Linked DNA regions of Homo sapiens: region 1 is linked to region 2. Evidence: fine-mapped expression QTL. Tissue or cell type: whole blood. Region 2 holds a variant in brackets; the other region holds the start of a gene. All regions are shown on one strand. Distances are from middle to middle.

Region 1 (11,052 bases), 32 kb after region 2:
ATAAATAGCTTTCTAACAGCCTTCCACACCAGGGTAGGGGGCCAGCAGAGCACTTCACACACACAGAAAGCCAGAAAAGCAATTACTACCTCATTATCAGGAATGCTAAAGAAGCCACACCTCACTCAACTGAGAATTTGCCTTTCTGGGCCCCCAAATTCCACTGACCCAGACCTCAGGGAAGATTGCCAGAACTCAAGAAGAGGCCAAAGCCACTGGGGTAAAGGAGAGGGAGGATGAGTAAGGAATGTCAGAAAAGGTGGTGTACTTAGAACAGACCACTGCACCTTTGATGTAATATTATTTTCAATACTGTTGCTGTCCACCTGAGTCTCAACCTGGGATCTCCTAGGCCTGGTTTCTGTCTTCCAAACACCCCCCACATCTGTCTGGGTGAAGGCATGTTTTATTACACACAGGCTAACAATCTCAGTGCATCGAGATGACATTTATCTCAAAACTAACATTGCAACCCACTCTAATAATGTTAGTCAATATCGGTATCAGATTTTTTTTTCCAGTTGATATTAACCAGCCTAAGCAATGGATGAGGTTTAATGTTATCTGGAAGTGGGAGGAGGCGACAGGAGGAGTGAGCTGCCACTTTCACTTCCTAAGTAAGCTGCTCTTTGGAAGCAGGGGCTCTGTTTCCAGAAATATGGCCCTACACAGAGCATAAGCACATCTGACTGTTAATGGCAGGAGATGGGCATCAGGAGGTAGGTAGAATAAGCAGGGGTGGGGGTACTCACTGAGCAGCTGGGGCAGTGGTTAAGAACAGGGACTCTGCTTCAAGTCCTGGGATAGACTTTGGGCTAGTTATTTAATCTTGTTGAGCCTCAGTTGTCTCCTCTATAAAACAAGGGAAATGATAACCACTGCACAGGGGCGCTGGGAAGATAAAATGAGCTAAAAACAAACAACAAAAACCCTAAACTCTTAGACCAGTGTGGGACACAGGAAGTCTATGTAAATGCTATTCTTATTTAGGGTCTACCAGATCAGGCCTGTCATCATTTCATTTAATCAAATCAAGCCTCAAAGCAATCTTTCCAGATAGGTAGAGTTAGCCCATTTTACAGATTCAAAAGCCAAGGCTCAAGAAGATTAAAAACCTTATCTGAAGTCACACAACTAGGAGAAGGAAAGACCAGCCCTGGAACCAAAGTAATCATCATAATCTTTATCATCATAATCATGACTTACTAGAAGCTGGGTGATGTGCTAAGCACTTTACATAGATTAGCTCATCAAATACTGAAAACTGCCCAGCAAGGAAAGCATTATTGTAACTAGTTTACAAAGGAGGACACAGAGTTGGAGTGGTTAAGTATGTTGGTGAAGGTCACACAGTTAGTTAAGGCAGTGATCCCCAACCTTTTTGGCACGAGGAACTGGTTTCATGGAAGACAATTTTTCCACAGACAGCGGCGAGTAGGGGCACAGGGGAGATCGTTTTAGGATGAAACTGTCTACCTCAGATCATCAGGCATTAAATTCTCATAAGGAATGTGCAGCCTAGATCCCTCGCGTGTGCGGTTCACCATAGGGTTCCCCTCGCATGAGAATCTGATGCCACCGCTGATCTGACAGGAGGCAGAGTTCAGGCGGTAATGCTTGCTCACTGCTGCTCACCTTCTGCTGTGCGGCCCACCTAAGAGGCCACCGACTGGTATTGGTCCATGGCCTAGGGATTGGGGACCCCTGAAGTAAGGAATAAAACAGGAATTGGATCCTGGTTCTGACTCCAAAACCCATTGTTTCTTCCATTTCAGCCCTGCATGTCTGGTATACTTTATAGACCCAACATCTCTATTTGAAATCATCAACACGCCTGTTTTCATATTAAGTATGAAACACTAGCTTTGTTAAATGGAGTCCAGAAATGACCCACTCACTGAAGGGGCCTGTGTTGTAAGGAGTTAGGATATCCCCTGCCAAAAAAGCCTAGCTTTCCCCCAGTTCCTTCCAAGAAGGTTTGGTTTTGAGGTCATAGGCAGCAATCTGGGCATGTGTTACAAGAAGCAGGGGAAGTTCTTACTCATTAGACTTTTAATCTTTTGGGAATTAGAAAACGAATACTCTCCCAAGTAAATCATCATCTGCTCTCAGCTCTGCTATCATGTAAGGCGTTTCCTTAGCAATATGTGACTGCCAGGCCCAGTTGCATGTGGCTCTGAAAATATCTACCAAATGACTACATTCTCCCAATTCTGACCCTAACCTGTATGGTGGCAATGACAGAACAGAAGGCCAAGGGACATCAACTTTCTGAAACAAATGTAATCAAGGTGAATGTTCATGTTTTATTAAAATCTTAATCTGCCAAAATCTGGCACTAATCTGGTGCTCACTTTGAAATTATCTGGGCCCTTACTACAGTGCTCTATAATTTAGAGGAAAAGGACGCTTCAGTAAAACAAATTCTAAAGTGGCAGTTTACTGGAGAGTAACTTTTAATTTCCATGCAGTATAATACAAAATTGCCTTGTTGGCTCTAAGGACGTGCATCCCTCATCAGGGAACTCTGCCCCATTAGAGGACCAAGGTGAGATCCCTTCAGAGTGGCATCATCCCCGGTTGGCTCAATGGCTCCAGAGACAGGGAGGATGGCGAAGAGAAGGGCCGGTGGCATGCCTGCCTTAGCCAACTCTGCACAGGAATCTCTGCCCACAGTTTGGACTGTGGCAGTTCCAGATAAAACACATGTTTAAATAAGAGTTCAAGCCAGGAAGTCTTGCCTGAATGAACTTTCTAGCGTGGGTAAAAAATGTCAGCTAACTGACATGCCAGTGACTACTCACCTCTCACCACAAGAGTCAAGTTTAGAAACAACACTTGCCCTCAACGAGTATTTGATGCGCTAAAGAGTTTTTCCAGAAACCAGGTCAGACCTTTTGGATAAATCAAAGGAGGCCCCTTGTGTGACATGCAACTGACTGTCCCTAGAAGATAAAAGAAAATGGGACTTCTGAAAACTTGCAAAATACCTAGAGCCTCTGCATGACAAAAATTCAGCATAAGTACACATTTTAGCTTTTCTAATTTCTTCTTGCCTAAAAAAAATCCCCCCAATAATAAGAATGATAGAAGAAACTAGTAACTTAAACCTTAAATCCTACGTTCATATCTTAGATTTTGAACAAATATTGAATCCTTTTCTTTGAATAAGAGATAAGACTTTGATAGTCTTGTGTAAGCAAATATCAGTGATCACACATACACTAGAAAAACACTTGATCTTTATGCCTATATTACTTACTGTTTCTATTTCTGATGTCTAATCTAAACAGCACTGCTGTTAGGATCAAAGTGACCATCCATGATGCACAGAGCACGTACCAGGGTAAAGTTCCAGCTGGGACGCAGGCATCAGCAATTGTAGAATTTGGGTTCTCCCTTCCTCAGATCCCTGACTGTCCTTGGTCATTCAAGAAAGATTCACTGTCCCTAGGCCAAGAGTCAGGAGCAAAACAGGAACACCAAGGGTATGGTCTGAGGATGTTGTCAGCAGGGAGCAACGTGCGTGTGTGTGCACATACACTAATTCTGAGACACTGTGCACAGCCCAGCTTTCTTGGAAAGCCATTTAAAAGATATATATGTGGCAACAGAGAGGAGGAAGTCTCAAGATTAAGAACAGCTTTTGAGTGTGTGTGTGTCAAAATATTCATTCCTATCACATGCAGTAAAACTGTATTCCAGAGCCATTAATACGCCCTGGGGGACTGAGGGGATTTGCAGCCTAAGATTTCAGACTTAAAGCCCGCTAAGGCCCTGAGCGGGGCAGCAGGGCAGGAGAAGGAATGGAGCGTTGAAGGGAACATTTTATAGACATTCTCCCTCATAGTGGCTGTACTAAGTAAACAATTAACGGGCACAAACTGCCACTCCAGTGTCTAATAACTACCTCTGCCAGAGCACCTGCCAGCGCCACCACCTTCCAGGTGTGTGATGCACATCATCTCGCTGAACTATGCTAGCCTCAGGAGAGGGTTGCTCTTTATTTTACAGGTGGGAAAACAGGGGCTTGGAGAGGTCAAGGAACTTGCCCAAAGTCACAGCATAGAAGTGACAGAATCCGAGTTTTGACCCAGATTTGATGGGTTCCAAAGCGTGAACTTATTTCTCCACTCCACAAAAATAAAACCTACTCTTCTTACAATATTTGAAAGAGCCCTCTTCTACCACTCTGCTGTTTGTTTTAAACACAGCTTGCTTATCTGTCTGGCATATTCGGTAGAAGTCTGTACTTTGTCAATGCCTGGTTTGCCTGGATTTCAGCTACCTGGCCCCTGGCATCTAAGCCTGGGTGAGAACAGGGAATCCACTCCTCTCTAAGATGCATCGTGGAGTTACTCTTTTACTCTTCCCTGAAAGTGATAGTTCAATCTTCAACAGGGGCTTTGAGGGAGAACAAACTCGACCCTTTGGCAAGCACGACTTCTGGCTTCACCGTTTTTTTGTTTTTTGTTTGTTTGTTTGTTTTTGACGGAGTTTTGCTCTTGTTGCCCAGGCTGGAGCGCAACAGGGCGATCTCGGCTCACTGCAACCTCTGCCTCCCGGGTTCAAGCAATTCTCCTGCTTCAGCCTCCCGAGTAGCTGGGATTACAGGCATGCGCCACCACGCCCGGTTAATTTTTTTTTTTTTTTTTTTTAGTAGAGACGGTTTCACCATGTTGGGCCAGGCTGGTCTCGAACTCTCGACCTCAGGTGATCCGCCTGCCTTGGCCTCCCAAAGTGCTGGGATTACAGGCGTGAGCCACCGCGCCCGGCCCTGGCTTCACCCTTAAAGCAGAAAGGCCAGAAGTCATCAAGGCCATGGGTTTACTAGCTTAGCTTCCCCAGACTTAATTTCAAACACCAACAACCGAAATGTTTCCTAGAATGCAGAGCTAATGAGACATCAACCTCTGTCATTTCCTATGTTTTTCACAATGTGCCAAAACAACTGCACACATTGGAGGCGTTTTTGAATGTGATATTCAGGCGACCTTGCCAAGCATTGTCTCATTTCCTTACTTTGTGGAGCATGAAACCCAAGGGAAGTTCTCACCCTCTCTCCAGGACCAAGCAGGACACTGGGAGCTGCTGTCCCGTCTGCAGGCGGGACTCCATGAAGGCCCCTGTCTGCCCTTCCAGCCTTTGCCACAAACCCTCGAACGCTGGCTGCACACTGGAATCACTTGGGGAGCTTTTAAAAGATACGGAGGCCTGGGTCTGACTCCGTGAGATTCTGATGGAATTGATCTAGGGTGCAGCCTGGATATCTGGATTTTAAAAGCTCCCCAGGTGGTTCTAAGCTGCTGGCACGATTGAGAACCCCTGCGTTCGACCACAGTGGGATAAACGATTCCGCTGACTGTGAAGTTCATCCCTCTCAACTTTCGCTACATGCTTCAAACTCGCGGGTTTCTCCGCTTGGTTCCACCCAGAGCTCCTCCAGAGCCGCGCTGCGTTCCGCCCGCACGCAAATCCCGCCTCCCTGCGCCTCCTCACTCGCAGCGCCCAGGACCTCAGAAAGGGCCTGCCCCGCGCGAATCCCCAGTCGCTGGGACTTACTTGGCCACCAGGTTTACAGACTTCGCAGCCGCTGAGAGCTAGAGAAGAGCCCGGAGAGCGCCATGGTCCGGGGACGCCGGGGCCGGGAAGCGCCGTGGCCCGGGAGGACGCTGCTCCCGCAGTAGCGCGAGGGAGGGGCAGGACCGGGGCGGCTGCCTCGCGGGCCCGGAACGGGAACTGGCTGCGACTACAGCCGCAGCCGCGCCCCTCTGTTGGCGCGCCCAAGAGCCTGCCGGCTGCTGGGAGAGGCCGCCGAAGGGCGGGGGCGGTCAAGGCAGGGTCCCACGGTGCTGCCATTCGCCCGGGTCTGGCGCGGGGGGGCGAGAGAAGCTGCGCGCAGAGGGACGCCCGGTGCGAGAGGGTGAGCCCCTGGCCACCGCGCAGGGCCGAGTGGACAGGCCCAAGTTCGCCCAGAGGTGACACACTTGGGAATTTGTGGTGCCATCGTGCCAGGTCCCTCCTCGTAAAAGTGCCTACCCAGCGCCTGCAACCAGAGCCAAAGCCTGGACATGATAGGGAAACTCTTGTTAAAACGCGACACGTGGTCCTGATGAAATGGAGGTTAACGTAATCAAATTTAAATTACACTGCATACATTTCAATTTATACTTTTTAAAAAATGTAAGCTTTTCTTCCTATCCTTAAATTTGTTCTTGGCAGTGTACATTTTATGTTCTATGCATATGCTCTAATAGGTTGTAAAAGAGTTTTAACATGCTAATAAATGTCCCCAATAAAATAGTTTTAAAACGTTTTGAATGGGGATCGTGTCCATAAGGGATATCATGCTACAGAAAGTTGTCACTTACTCACACTGAAGAAGTACATTCAATCATATAGCCACTGATGCTTGTGAGTATTAAAATTCCCATCAGAGGCTGCCCTCTGAGAAACAGAAAGTATGTTCTTAAATCAAAAGTGAAAGTGCAAACTAAAGTTGATAGGATCAAATGTGCCAACTTGTGTCAGGCCTCTGAGCCCAAGCCTGCATGTATACATCCAGATGGCCTGAAGCAACTGAGGAATCACAAAGGTAGTGAAAATGGCTGGTTCCTGCCTTAACTGATGACATTACCTTGTGAAATTCCTTCTCCTGGCTCAGAAGCTCCCCCACTGAGCACTTTGTAGACCTTCCACCCCCCCGGCCCCCGCCTTGCCCACCAGAGAACAACCCCCTTTGACTGTAATTTTCCACTACCCACACAAATCCTATAAAGCTACCACACCCCTAACTCCCTTTGCTGACTCTTTTTTTCGTACTCGGCCCACCTGCACCCAGGTGAAATAAACAGCTTTATTGCTCACGCAAAGCCTTTTGGTGGTCTCTTCACACGGACACGTGTGACATTTGGTGCCGAAGACCCGGGACAGGAGGACTCCTTCAGGAGACCAGTCCCCTGTCCTCACCCTCACTCTGTGAGGAGATCCACCTATGACCTCGGGTCCTCAGACCAAACAGCCCAAGGAACATCTCACCAATTTCAAATCGGGTAAGCGGTCTTTTCACTGTCTTCTCCAGCCTCTCTCACTACCCTTAAATCTCCCTCTATTTCCAATTCCAGTTCTTTCTCCTCTCTAGTAGAGACAAAGGAGACATATTTTATCCATGGACCCAAAACTCCAGCTCCGGTCACGGACTCAGGAAAACAGTCGTCCCTTGGTGTTTAATCACTGCAGGGACACCTGCCTGATTATTCACGTACATTTCATTGGTGTCTGATCACCGTGGGGATGCCTGCCTTGGTCATTCACCCACATTCCCTTGGTGGCAAGTCAATTGTGGGTCGCCTGCTTTGGCTGCTCAGCCACATTGCAGCCCAGGGCTGCTCACCACCCCCCTTCTCCGGGTCTCTACCTTCTTTTCTCTGGGCTTGCCTCCTTCACTATGGGCAACCTTCCACCCTCCATTCCCCCTTCTTCTCCCTTAGCCTGTGTTCTCAAGAACTTAAAACCTCTTCAACTCACACCTGACCTAAAACCTAAACGCCTTATTTTCTTCTGCAATACCGTTTGACCCCAATACAGACTCAACAATGGTTCCAAATAGCCAGAAAACGGCACTTTCAATTTCTCCATCCTACATGAGCTAGATAATTATTGTCGTAAAATGGGCAAATAGTCTGAGGTGCCTGATGTCCAGGCATTCTTTTACACATTGGTCCCTTCCTAATCTCTGCTCCCAATGTGACTCATCCCAAATCTTCTTTCTCTCCTGTCTGTTCCTTCAGTCTCCACCCCAAGCTCTGAGTCCTGTGAATCCTCCTTTTCTATGGACCCATCTAACCTCTCCCCTCCTCCCCAGGCTGCTCCTCGCCAGGCTGAGCCAGGTCCCAATTCTTCCTCTGCCTCCACTCCCCCACCCTATAATCCTTCTATCACCTCACCTCCTCACACCCGGTCCAGCTTACAGTTTCGTTCCGCAACTAGCCCTCCCCTACCTACCCAACAATTTCCTCAAGGTTAATGCTCCTTTTTCTTTATCCAACCTCTCCCAAATCAATTAGCATTTAGGCTTTTTTTCATCAAATATGAAAACATAGCCCAGTCCATGGCTCTTTTGGCAACAACCCTTAGACACTTTACAGCCCTAGACTCTGAAAGGTCAGAAGGCTGTCTTAGTATGCATTTTAGTACCCAATCCACTCCCGACGTTACATAAAGCTCCAAAAATTAGAATTCGGCCCTCAAACCCCACAAAAGGAATTAATCAACCTCACCTTCAAGGTGTACAATAATAGAAAGGAGGCAGCCAGACAGCAATGCATTTCTGAGTTACAATTACTTGCCTCTGCTGTAAGACAAAACCCAGCCGCACCTCCAGCACACAAGAACATCAGAATGCCTAAGCCGCAGTGGTCAAGCATTCCTACAGGACCTCCTCCATCAGGATCTTGCTTCAAGTGCCAGAAATCTGGCCACTGGGCCAAGGAATGTGTGCAGCCCGGGATTCCTCCCAAGCCATGTCCCATCTGTGCAGGACCCCACTGGAAATCAGACTGTCCAACTCGCCCAGCAGCCACTGCTAGAGCCCCTGGAACTCTGTCTGGCCCAAGGCTCTCTGACTGACTCCTTTACAGATCTTCTCGGACTGACGCTGCCCGATCGCCTCAGAAGCCTCCTGGACCATCACAGATGCTTTGGGTAACTCTTACAGTGGAGGGTAAGTCCATCCCCTTCTTAATTAATACGGAGGCTACCCACTCCACATTACCTTCTTTACAAAGGCCTGTTTCCTTTGCCTCCATAAATGTTGTGGGTATTGATGGCCAGGCTTCTAAACCTCTTAAAACTTCCCAATTCTGGTGCCAACTTGGACAACATTCTTTTATGCACTCCTTTTTAGTTATCCCCACCTGCCCAGTTCCCTTATTAGGTCGAGAAATTTTAACTAAATTATCTGCTTCCCTGACTATTCCTAGGCTACAGCCACACCTCAATGCTGCCCTTTTTCCCAGTTCAAAGCCTCCTTTGCATCCTCCTTTTGTATCCCCCCACCTTAATCCACAAGTGTAGGACACCTCTACTCCCTCCTTGGCAACCGATCACGCAACCCGTACCATCCCATTAAAACCTAATCACCCTTACCCCGCTCAACGCCAATATCCCATCCCACAGCACGCTTTAAAAGGATTAAAGCCTGTTATCACTCACCTGTTAACAGCATGGCCTTTTAAATCCTATAAACTCTCCTTACAATTCCCCCATTTTACCTGTCCAAAAACCGGACAAGCCTTACAGGTTAGTTCAGGATCTGCGCCTTATCAACCAAATTGTCTTGCCTATCCACCCTGTGGTGCCAAACCCATATACTCTCCTATCCTCAATACCTCCCTCCACAACCCCTCCATAGCCCATTATTCTGTTCTGGATCTCAAACATGCTTTCTTTACTATTCCTTTGCACCCTTCATCCCAGCCTCTCTTTGCTCTCACTTAGACTGATCCTGACATCCATCAGCCTCAGCAACTTACTTGGGCTGTACTGCCACAAGGCTTCATGGACAGCCCCCATTGCTTCAGTCAAGCCCAAATTTCTTCCTCATCCATTACCTGTCTTGGCATAATTCTTCATGAAAAAACACATGCTCTCTCTGCTGATCCTGACTGGCTAATCTCCCAAACCCCAGCCACTTCTACAAAACAACAACTCCTTTCCTTCCTAGGCATGGGTAGGTACTTCCGCCTTTGGATACCTAGTTTTACCATCCTGACTAAACCATTATATAAACTCACAAAAGCAAACCTAGCTGACCCCATTAATCCTAAATCCTTTCCCCACTCCTCTTTCCGTTCCTTAAAAAACAGCCCTAAAAGCTGCTCCCACACTAGCTCTCCGTAACTCATCCCAACCCTTTTTTCATTACACACAGCCGAAGTGCAGGGCTGTGCAGTCAGAATTCTTACACAAGAGCTGGGATTGTGCCCTGTAGCCTTTCTGTCCAAATAACTTAACCCTACTGTTTTAGCTAGCCCCCATTATTCCTGATACCACACCTGACCCCCATGACTGTATCTCTCTAAATCCACCTGGCATTCACTCCATTTCCCCATATTTCTTTCTTTCCTGTTCCTCACCTTGATCGCACTTGGTTTATTGTTGGCAGTTCCACCAGGCCTAATTGCCATTCACCAGCAAAGGCAGGCTATGCTATAGTAGTATCTTCCACATCTATCCTTGAGGCTACCACTCTGCCCCGCTCCCCTACCTCTCAGCAAGCCAAACTCATTGCCTTAACTTGAGCCCTCACTCTTGCAAAAGGACTACACGTCAATATTTATACTGTCTCTAAATATGCCTCCCATATCCTGCACCACCATGCTGTTATATAGGCAGAAAAAGGTTCCCTCACTACGCAAAGGTCCTCCATCATTAATGCCTCTTTAATAAAAACTCTTCTCAAGACCACTTTACTTCCAAAGGAAGCTGGAGTCATTCACTGCAAGGGCCATCAAAAGGCATCAGATCCCATCACTCAGGGCAATGCTTATGCTGATAAGGTAGCTAAAGAAGCAGCTAGAGTTCCAACTTCTGTCCCTCATGGCCAGTTTTTATCCTTCTCTTCGGTCACTCCCACCTACTGTCCCACTGAAACTTCCACTTATCAATCTCTTCCCACATAAGGCAAATGGTTCTAGGACCAAGGAAAATATCTCTTTCCAGCCTCACAGGCCCATTCTATTCTGTCATCATTTCATAACCTCTTCCATGTAGGTTACAAGCCGCTAGCCCATCTCTTAAAACCTCTCATTTCCTTTCCATTGTAAAAATCTATCCTCAGAAAATCACTTCTCAGTGTTCCATCTGCTATTCTGTTTCTCCTCAGGGATTTCTCAGGCCCCCTCCCTTCCCTACACATCAAGCTCGAGAATTTACCCCTGCCCAGGACTGGTAAATTGACTTTACTCACATGCCCCGAGTCAGAAAACTAAAATACCTCTTGGTCTGGGTATACGCTTTCACTAGATAGGTAGAGGCCTTTCCCACAGGGTC
Region 2 (11,052 bases):
AAAAAGAATAAAAAGAAATGAGCAAAGCCTCCAAGAAATATGGGACTATGTGAAAAGACCAAATCTACGTCTGATTGGTGTACCTGAAAGTGATGTGGAGAATGGAACCAAGTTGGAAAACACTCTGCAGGATATTATCCAGGAGAACTTCCCCAATCTAGCAAGGCAGGCCAACGTTCAGATTCAGGAAATACAGAGAACGCCACAAAGATACTCCTCGAGAAGAGCAACTCCAAGACACATAATTGTCAGATTCACCAAAGTTGAAATGAAGGAAAAAATGTTAAGGGCAGCCAGAGAGAAAGTTCGGGTTACCCTCAAAGGAAAGCCCATCAGACTAACAGCGGATCTCTCGGCAGAAACCCTACAAGCCAGAAGAGAGTGGGGGCCAATATTCAACATTCTTAAAGAAAAGAATTTTCAACCCAGAATTTCATATCCAGCCAAACTAAGCTTCATAAGTGAAGGAGAAATAAAATACTTTATAGACAAGCAAATGCTGAGAGATTTTGTCACCACCAGGCCTGCCCTAAAAGAGCTCCTGAAGGAAGCGGTAAACATGGAAAGGAACAACCGGTACCAGCCGCTGCAAAATCATGCCAAAATGTAAAGACCATCGAGACTAGGAAGAAACTGCATCAACTAATGAGCAAAATCGCCAGCTAACATCATAATGACAGGATCAAATTCACACATAACAATATTAACTTTAAATATAAATGGACTAAATTCTGCAATTAAAAGACACAGACTGGCAAGTTGGATAAAGAGTCAAGACCCATCAGTGTGCTGTATTCAGGAAACCCATCTCACGTGCAGAGACACACATAGGCTCAAAATAAAAGGATGGAGGAAGATCTACCAAGCCAATGGAAAACAAAAAAAGGCAGGGGTTGCAATCCTAGTCTCTGATAAAACAGACTTTAAACCAACAAAGATCAAAAGAGACAAAGAAGGCCATTACATAATGGTAAAGGGATCAATTCAACAAGAGGAGCTAACTATCCTAAATATTTATGCACCCAATACAGGAGCACCCAGATTCATAAAGCAAGTCCTCAGTGACCTACAAAGAGACTTAGACTCCCACACATTAATAATGGGAGACTTTAACACCCCACTGTCAACATTAGACAGATCAATGAGACAGAAAGTCAACAAGGATACCCAGGAATTGAACTCAGCTCTGCACCAAGCAGACCTAATAGACATCTACAGAACTCTCCACCCCAAATCAACAGAATATACATTTTTTTCAGCACCACACCACACCTATTCCAAAATTGACCACATAGTTGGAAGTAAAGCTCTCCTCAGCAAATGTAAAAGAACAGAAATTATAACAAACTATCTCTCAGACCACAGTGCAATCAAACTAGAACTCAGGATTAAGAATCTCACTCAAAGCCGCTCAACTACATGGAAACTGAACAACCTGCTCCTGAATGACTACTGGGTACATAACGAAATGAAGGCAGAAATAAAGATGTTCTTTGAAACCAACGAGAACAAAGACACCACATACCAGAATCTCTGGGACGCATTCAAAGCAGTGTGTAGAGGGAAATTTATAGCACTAAATGCCTACAAGAGAAAGCAGGAAAGATCCAAAATTGACACCCTAACATCACAATTAAAAGAACTAGAAAAGCAAGAGCAAACACATTCAAAAGCTAGCAGAAGGCAAGAAATAACTAAAATCAGAGCAGAACTGAAGGAAATAGAGACACAAAAAACCCTTCAAAAAATCAATGAATCCAGGAGCTGGTTTTTCGAAAGGATCAACAAAATTGATAGACCGCTAGCAAGACTAATAAAGAAAAAAAGAGAGAAGAATCAAATAGACACAATAAAAAATGATAAAGGGGATATCACCACCGATCCCACAGAAATACAAACTACCATCAGAGAATACTACAAACACCTCTACGCAAATAAACTAGAAAATCTAGAAGAAATGGATACATTCCTCGACACATACACTCTCCCAAGACTAAACCAGGAAGAAGTTGAATCTCTGAATAGACCAATAACAGGCTCTGAAATTGTGGCAATAATCAATAGTTTACCAACCAAAAAGAGTCCAGGACCAGATGGATTCACAGCCGAATTCTACCAGAGGTACAAGGAGGAACTGGTACCATTCCTTCTGAAACTATTCCAATCAATAGAAAAAGAGGGAATCCTCCCTAACTCATTTTATGAGGCCAGCATCATTCTGATACCAAAGCCGGGCAGAGACACAACCAAAAAAGAGAATTTTAGACCAATATCCTTGATGAACATTGATGCAAAAATCCTCAATAAAATACTGGCAAACCGAATCCAGCAGCACATCAAAAAGCTTATCCACCATGATCAAGTGGGCTTCATCCCTGGGATGCAAGGCTGGTTCAATATACGCAAATCAATAAATGTAATCCAGCATATAAACAGAGCCAAAGACAAAAACCACATGATTATCTCAATAGATGCAGAAAAAGCCTTTGACAAAATTCAACAACCCTTCATGCTAAAAACTCTCAATAAATTAGGTATTGATGGGACGTATTTCAAAATAATAAGAGCTATCTATGACAAACCCACAGCCAATATCATACTGAATGGGCAAAAACTGGAAGCATTCCCTTTGAAAACTGGCACAAGACAGGGATGCCCTCTCTCACCGCTCCTATTCAACATAGTGTTGGAAGTTCTGGCCAGGGCAATCAGGCAGGAGAAGGAAATAAAGGGTATTCAATTAGGAAAAGAGGAAGTCAAATTGTCCCTGTTTGCAGACGACATGATTGTTTATCTAGAAAACCCCATCGTCTCAGCCCAAAATCTCCTTAAGCTGATAAGCAACTTCAGCAAAGTCTCAGGATACAAAATCAATGTACAAAAATCACAAGCATTCTTATACACCAACAACAGACAAACAGAGAGCCAAATCATGGGTGAACTCCCATTCACAATTGCTTCAAAGAGAATAAAATACCTAGGAATCCAACTTACAAGGGATGTGAAGGACCTCTTCAAGGAGAACTACAAACCACTGCTCAAGGAAATAAAAGAGGACACAAACAAATGGAAGAACATTCCATGCTCATGGGTAGGAAGAATCAATATCGTGAAAATGGCCATACTGCCCAAGGTAATTTACAGATTCAATGCCATCCCCATCAAGCTACCAATGACTTTCTTCACAGAATTGGAAAAAACTACTTTAAAGTTCATATGGAACCAAAAAAGAGCCCGCATCGCCAAGTCAATCCTAAGCCAAAAGAACAAAGCTGGAGGCATCACACTACCTGACTTCAAACTATACTACAAGGCTACAGTAACCAAAACAGCATGGTACTGGTACCAAAACAGAGATATAGATCAATGGAACAGAACAGAGCCCTCAGAAATAATGCCGCATATCTACAACTATCTGATCTTTGACAAACCTGAGAAAAACAAGCAATGGGGAAAGGATTCCCTATTTAATAAATGGTGCTGGGAAAACTGGCTAGCCATATGTAGAAAGCTGAAACTGGATCCCTTCCTTACACCTTATACAAAAATCAATTCAAGATGGATTAAAGATTTAAACGTTAAACCTAAAACCATAAAAACCCTAGAAGAAAACCTAGGCATTACCATTCAGGACATAGGCGTGGGCAAGGACTTCATGTCCAAAACACCAAAAGCAATGGCAACAAAAGACAAAATTGACAAATGGGATCTAATTAAACTAAAGAGCTTCTGCACAGCAAAAGAAACTACCATCAGAGTGAACAGGCAACCTACAACATGGGAGAAAATTTTCGCAACCTACTCATCTGACAAAGGGCTAATATCCAGAATCTACAATGAACTCAAACAAATTTACAAGAAAAAAACAAACAACCCCATCAAAAAGTGGGCGAAGGACATGAACAGACACTTCTCAAAAGAAGACATTTATGCAGCCAAAAAACACATGAAGAAATGCTCATCATCACTGGCCATCAGAGAAATGCAAATCAAAACCACTATGAGATATCATCTCACACCAGTTAGAATGGCAATCATTAAAAAGTCAGGAAACAGCAGGTGCTGGAGAGGATGCGGAGAAATAGGAACACTTTTACACTGTTGGTGGGACTGTAAACTAGTTCAACCATTGTGGAAGTCAGTGTGGCGATTCCTCAGGGATCTAGAACTAGAAATACCATTTGACCCAGCCATCCCATTACTGGGTATATACCCAAATGAGTATAAATCATGCTGCTATAAAGACACATGCACACGTATGTTTATTGTGGCACTATTCACAATAGCAAAGACTTGGAACCAACCCAAATGTCCAACAATGATAGACTGGATTAAGAAAATGTGGCACATATACACCATGGAATACTATGCAGCCATAAAAAATGATGAGTTCATATCCTTTGTAGGGACATGGATGAAATTGGAAACCATCATTCTCAGTAAACTATCGCAAGAACAAAAAACCAAACACCGCATATTCTCACTCATAGGTGGGAATTGAACAATGAGATCACATGGACACAGGAAGGGGAATATCACACTCTGGGGACTGTGGTGGGGTCGGGGGAGGGGGGAGGGATAGCATTGGGAGATATACCTAATGCTAGATGACACATTAGTGGGTGCAGCGCACCAGCATGGCACATGTATACATATGTAACTAACCTGCACAATGTGCACATGTACCCTAAAACTTAGAGTATAATAAAAAAAAAAAGAATCTAAAAAAAAAAAAAAAAAAAAAAAAGAATTGAAGGCAGTCCTTGAAGAGACATTTGTATGCCCATGTGCACAGCAGCATTATTCACAACAGCCAAAGCATAGAAGCAAGCCAGTGTCTGTTCTTGGATGAATGAGTAAACAAAATGTGGCATAGCCATGCAATGGAGTATTACTCAGCCTTAAAAAAGAAGGAAATCCTGGCGGGGCACGGTGGCTCACGCCTATAATCCTGACACTTTGGGAGACCGAGGTGGGTGGATCATTTGAGGTCAGGAGTTTGAGACCAGCCTGGCCAACATGGTGAAACCCCGCCTCTACTAAAAATACAAAAATTAGCTGGGATTGGTGGCGGGTGCCTATAATCCCAGCTACTCGTGTGGCTGAGGCGAGAGAATCGCTTGAACCCAGAAGGCAGAGGTTGCAGTGAGCCGAGATCATGCCACTGCACTCCAGCCTGGGCAACAGAGCGAGACTCTGTCAAAAAAAAAAAAAAAAAAAAAAAAAAAGGAAATCCTGTCCCATGCTTCCATGTGGACGAATCTTGAGGACATGATGCTAGTGAAATCAGCCATCCCCAAAAGGCAAATACTGTATGATTCCACTTACATGAGGTAGAGTAGTCAAAACCATAGAGAGAGTAAGTAGCAGGGTGGCTGCAAGAGGCAGGGGGGAGGGGGACCGGGGAGTTATTGCTTAATGGGCACGGTTTCAGTTTCGCAGCATGGTGAAAGCTCTCCACTATCTCTCCCCGACAGCGAGCCCCAGTGGTCCTTCTGGTGTACTGATGTATGAAAAGAACAGCAAGGCCCGCCCCCCACACACACAGCAGGTTGTACCACATACATCC[A/G]TCCCCTTCTACTCACCCAACCTCAGAGATTGATTTGCTGTTCTTCACAGCCAGGGCGAGATACTTCCCTCCTTCACTTGTTATTTTGTTTTTTCCCAGTCTGCAGAGAGAGTCACACACAGTCAGCCTCCAGCTATGCAGGGGCTCCAATGTGGGTCACCCTCCTCCCCAGCACAGAGCCCCTTCCAGCCCCATCTTGGGAACCGTACACTTTCTTCTGGGATCCACAAGAGCCATGGCCTGGGCCTCCTGTCAGGGAGGGAACTGAAGCCCTGAGGACAGTCAGTCAGGGTTCCTCTCCAGGAGATGGTCCACAGTCTCTGCAGAAGCTCAGGGACCTGAGCCCTCCCTGGGGTCCTCTAATTGACCTCAGCAGCATCACTGACTTCCCTCGGGAGACCTGGGAGGTCCCACTTTGACTGCCAAGGGTCAAGGTATGTGGCCACTGTCAGGGCAGGACCAGAGGCTCCAAGCCTGGCGCACTGTCACCCCCTGCGCAGGGCACACCTACAGCAGGGCAAGGGCCCAAGCTCTTCCTTGCAACCCGACAGGAAACTCCCTTGGGGCAAAAAGACCACCAGAAAGGGTGAGAGTTAGTCCTTTCTTCGGCCTAGTAGTTAATGAAATCAAAATGCCAACCTTTCCCCCTACCAATAACGGGAGGCCCTTCCAGAATCCAAGCCTCACAGATCACACAGAGGTATCTTTACTTGACCAACATGGCCCTGGGACAAGTGGAAGGCTTTAGGATGAAAGCTCTTTACTGTGACATTTAATCTTTGAACAACAGAAGGGGGTGATCAAGAGAATATACTAAGGAACCTGGTGCCTACCCCACTTACTTAAGATGCGTGAGGCCTTTGCATTCATCCAGGATTTTGGTGACGTACCTGGCTCCGACATCGGTGATCTGGTTGTTGTATAAACTTCAAGAGAAAGCACAGCCATGAGACTTTCTGGCTCCTGATGTCATTTTAATAGCCCCTGTTTTTTGAAGCATATGGTGTCTACTGATTTCCAAAGTCTGGGTTGAAAGGGGAACACACAGGCACCAGAGTTTAGGGCTCTGAGGTCTCACAGCTCAGGTTCAAAACCAGCTCCACTACTTTCCCCAGCTTTATGGCCTGAGACAAGTCACGTTACCTCTCTGTGCCTCAGTTTCTCCATCTGTAATACAGAGGTAATGATGATAGTCCCCTTGCAGGGTGGTTATGAGGATCTTAGGACATAACGCAAAGCCCTGGTGCATGAGTGCTCGGTGACTGGCAGGTGATGGGTATTTACAACTAAGATTACATTCAGCGTCTTGAGAAGAAAAGATTCTGAATATTAAAACTTCTCGATGTCTACCTTTCAGCCATCTCACCGCTCAATGCCAATTCAATAGTACAGCAGATGGAAGTTGAAAGGCAGCTAAGCTCAGGCTTCCAGGGTTCCACAGCCACACAGAGCCCTGGAGCCGAGTGTGGCCCGGGGTCGTTTGCGTCCATGTCCTCATTAACATCGAAGGCCACTGAGGCCCCAAGAAACTGAACAACTGCTCCAGCTTGCAGAGCCACCAGTTGTGTGGGGCTGGCCCGCAATCCCTTCTCTCAGACTCCAAAACCTCAAAGGCTCTGAATGCCCAAAGTTTCTCACAATTCTTTTGGCAACTGATGTGGAGCTACTTATAGTCTTTCTTACCACACTTGGTTTGACTGTTTCATACATTCTGCGGGAGAAATATGAAAGTGTTTGAAAATGGGGCACTGCCTTAGACCCCTGCGGCCACGTCATGCCATAGCATGCACTCAGAATCCCCATTCGGGTCTTGCCCCAAAGGCTCTGGATGAGGGATTATGGACCCAAAATAGTCCAGACTAATATGTAAACAGGATTCTAGCATTTATTAAATATATCCCCTTATATTCTCGTTGCATCCCCCAATAACCAGTTGTAAGCCTACTTGCCTATACTGGGATCCCAGTTTTACAGGTGAGGAGGCTGAGGCTCAGCAAGACTTCATGACTGGCCGAGCCACAAAGAGAACCCAGGACTCTCAACTCCTGGGCCAGCGCTCTTCCCAGCCCTGGGCCATCCGTGCCGATCATCCAGGGACCTATGGGAATGTGAATTCCCTGCAGCTCTGTATTATTACTAGGTAGTTGGCCCAGTGTTCTGGAGAAAGACATACCCCAAATAGGTCACAATTTTGTATTTGGTCAGCTCTTCGCTTAGCACCTTTACCCCACCGTCAGTGATCTGGTTTACGCTGAGTCTGAAATAAAACAGCAAAAAAATTACGAGTCAGGGCAGGCACTCATTATGAAGGACCATTAATCTTACAAAGATCCAGAAGCCTTCAGGCCCTGGAGTTTTCTCAGGTATAGACGCCCCTGGAGAATGGCCACAGCAATCAGCCAAATAGCCCCTTACAAAGCCTGGCCAACGTGGGGCCGCCAGACCCATCCTGCACCAGCCCATGAGCGAGGCTGCAGCACAGCCCCTGGCTCCTCACACGACCGTGAAGGACACAGGGAGGACGTGTGAGGCCAGCCACCTCTGACATCCACCCTTTGCGTGTGACCTATGTGTCAGCCAGACCCTGTACCTGGTTCTCGTATGGTGGAGGGCATGGGTTTGGAAATGTCAGGGGCTGCTTTTAGTGGTTGTGACTGGAGGAGGGAGTGCCCTGTCATCTTGCAGGCAGGGCCAATGATGTTAGGTGTCCTGCAAAATGCTGGACAGGTCTCACAAGAACTGTTATACCCAAAATGCCAACAGCTTCCCCCCATCCAGAAACACATGGGCTAACCCTGATTTGTCACTGGAAAAGGCTGTGAGTCCCACTGTCAAAGGAGACTGCTCATGTCATTCTGTAAAGTGTCAGACAGCAAATATTTTAGGCTCTGTGGGCCATGTGGTCTCTGTCACAGCTACTCAACTGTGTAGTGTGAAGCAGCCAGTAAGTAAATAAATGGGTATGGCTGCGTTCCAATAAAACTTTACTTAGAAACACAAGCCTTGGGCCCAATTAGACCCACAAGCTGACCTTGATAACAAGTAAAAGGCTGAACAATTAAAAGCTTGATTTTTAGGCCACATCAAAATGATCAAGTCAGACACTCTGGACCCTTTCCCTCAGAGTCCCCAGCTTGGTGCTGGGAAATAGTGTGTATGTACATGGCATGGCCAGCCCAAGACAGCACAGGCTGCTAGACATTCCCAATATCTATACTTTCTTAGCAATAGATTCCCCCATCTTTTAGCTGGGCCCATCTCATTAAATTCTGCCCATACCATTAAGTTCTGAAATCTAAGCAGCAATATAATTAGTAATAGCCAAGAAGTGTTCTTAAAAGATTGAGGCATGCTCTCAATCTTTGCCCTTCCTTCTTACTGATAGCTAGAGTGTCGACTAGATGGCTGGAGTTTGAGCAGCCCTCTTGGGCCAAGATGGGAAAGCCGGGTAGTGAGGATGGCAGAACAGGAAGGCAGAAGAGAGCCTGGGCTCCGGAGGGTCATGGAGACTCCATACCAGTCCTGAACTACCTACCTCTAGACTTTTACATGAGAGAAATAAGCTTGTAACTCACCAACATTTGGGGTTTTCGCTCTCAGCTAAAACTAATCCTAACTGATGCAGCCAGAGAACTGAGTGTGCTTCCCGTGGTTACCCATATCCTCTGCTTTCCTACAAGCTGTTTTTTCTTGCACTGGTGTGAAGGAAAGCTTCACCTGGGGACAGCAGGAAGGGCAGGGCCACCACACTGGTGTGGAGTTTCCCATTGAAAAGATGGACAGAGGGGTCGGGTGCGGCGGCTCATGCCTGTAACCCCAACATTTTGGAAGGCCGAGGCGGGCGGATCACCTGAGGTCAGGATTTCAAGACCAGCCTGGCCAACATGGGGAAACCCCGTCCTACTAAAAATACAAAAAACTTAGCCGGACATGGTGGCGTGTGCCTGTAATCCCAGCTACTCAGGAGGCTGGGGCAAGAGAATCGCTTGAACCCAGGAGGCGGAGGTTGCAGTGAGCTGAGATCACGCCACTGCACTCCAGCCTGGGCAACAGAGCGGGACTCCATTTGGGGGAGAAAAAAAAAAGATGGACAGAGGGTGGCACTGAGTGTGAGACTGCCTGGGGCTACAGAGGGAGAGTCACTGGCTGAGAGTACAGAGAACAGACTCCAGGTTTTCCAATTCCCAGGCTAGGGCAGCCTTCGACCCCCTGCACCCCATGTCCCCATGCAATTATTTACACTCTGACACTGGTGTGACAGGCACTGGGAGTCAGTTCCAAATCCCTACTGCTTTTTAGAAATGCATGAGTCAAGTAATGGCAAATTTAACCCCCTGTAGAGATTTACAAGGTTTATTTTACATAGGAAATGCTAATAGAAGAAAACAGACTGGGCTCTGTTTCCCGTAAACTATGGAACAGGAAAACAACCACGAGTCAGCATTTTAACTGAGGTCTCTAGCAGTGTGAAGGGCTGCTAGCGTTGATCACAGAAAGTCACCAGTGCCAACTGGCACAAGGTCTGCTTTCTCTGCAGTAATAAAAGCTCCCATATTCCAGAAACTTTTTGAGGGCTATCTCGGAGCCTTACATTAATCTTAAAAGGAAGGTTCTTTATGCATTCTGGCACTGCTATGTCTGAGCTGTGTGACCTAAAGCAAGCTATTAACTTCTCTGTGCCTCTACTTCCTTATCTGCCAAAATAGAGACAATAACAGTACCTAAGTTACAGGGTTGTAAAGAGCATTCCATTAGGTAATATTTGTAATGCACTTCACCCATTCTCAACTAACATTGGTCCCTGTGGCCATAATTGATAGGATTATGAGCATCTTCTTTTTCCAGATGAGGGCGTGGAGGCTCTGAGAGTTAAGCACTTTGTTCAAGGGCACCCAGCTGTGGCTGATCCAGGTCCACCTGCCTCGAAGCTTTGCACCTTGACCTCTGCCCTGCTAAGAAAGAAAAGGTCTGGACATTCCAAGGGCCATGGTCATGAGTCCTGGGGGATCCTGGTCCATGATGCCATTCCCGATGCCCTCCGAGCCTGGCCCGCCCGGCCCACCTGTTGCTCCCCTTGCCTGGCAGCCTCACCTGAGAACAGTGAGGCGGCTGAAGCAGGGCTGCAGCTCCCGCACGCCGTAGTCGTTGAGATTGTTGTTGTCTAGGTCTAGGGCCAGCCGCTTGGGGAAGTGATGCAGGACGAAGGAGAGGGCGCTGCAGTCGGCCGAGCAGGCGTTGCAGTAGGTCAGCTTGAGGTAGTTGGCGCAGATGCCCCTGGCCGCCAGCTGCCCCACCTTCTGGCTCTGTGTCTCGTAGATGCAGCGCAGCATCCAGATGAACGTGGGCATGGCCTGCACCTGGTTGAAGCTTTCGACCTGAACGCGGGGCAGGCTCTTCAGGTAGCCCCGCAGGCTGGAAAACAGGTGTGCCCACAGGGCCTTGCGCTTTCTCCTCAGGGCTGCCGCGGGCACCAGATGCCGCAG

What was found. PIP is the estimated chance that this variant, and not a neighbour inherited with it, causes the effect.
Region 1: it holds the start of NOD1, and the variant in region 2 is fine-mapped to the expression of NOD1 in whole blood (TOPMed, PIP above 0.99).

What each region holds. Positions count from the first base shown.
Region 1 is chr7:30,473,044-30,484,095 of GRCh38, forward strand. It overlaps NOD1 (nucleotide binding oligomerization domain containing 1), which reads right to left and starts at 5,741. Exons shown (of 14, transcript NM_006092.4): 1 at 5,563-5,741. RefSeq lists an enhancer at 5,237-5,981 and a silencer at 5,630-5,869.
Region 2 is chr7:30,440,556-30,451,607 of GRCh38, forward strand. It overlaps NOD1 (nucleotide binding oligomerization domain containing 1), which reads right to left. Exons shown (of 14, transcript NM_006092.4): 6 at 10,661-11,052; 7 at 7,743-7,826; 8 at 6,412-6,495; 9 at 5,586-5,669. Among named protein-coding and RNA genes, the nearest start is that of NOD1, 33 kb to the right of the region's middle. RefSeq lists a silencer at 5,284-5,443 and an enhancer at 8,971-9,471. The variant A/G (reference allele first, on the strand shown) is at 5,570.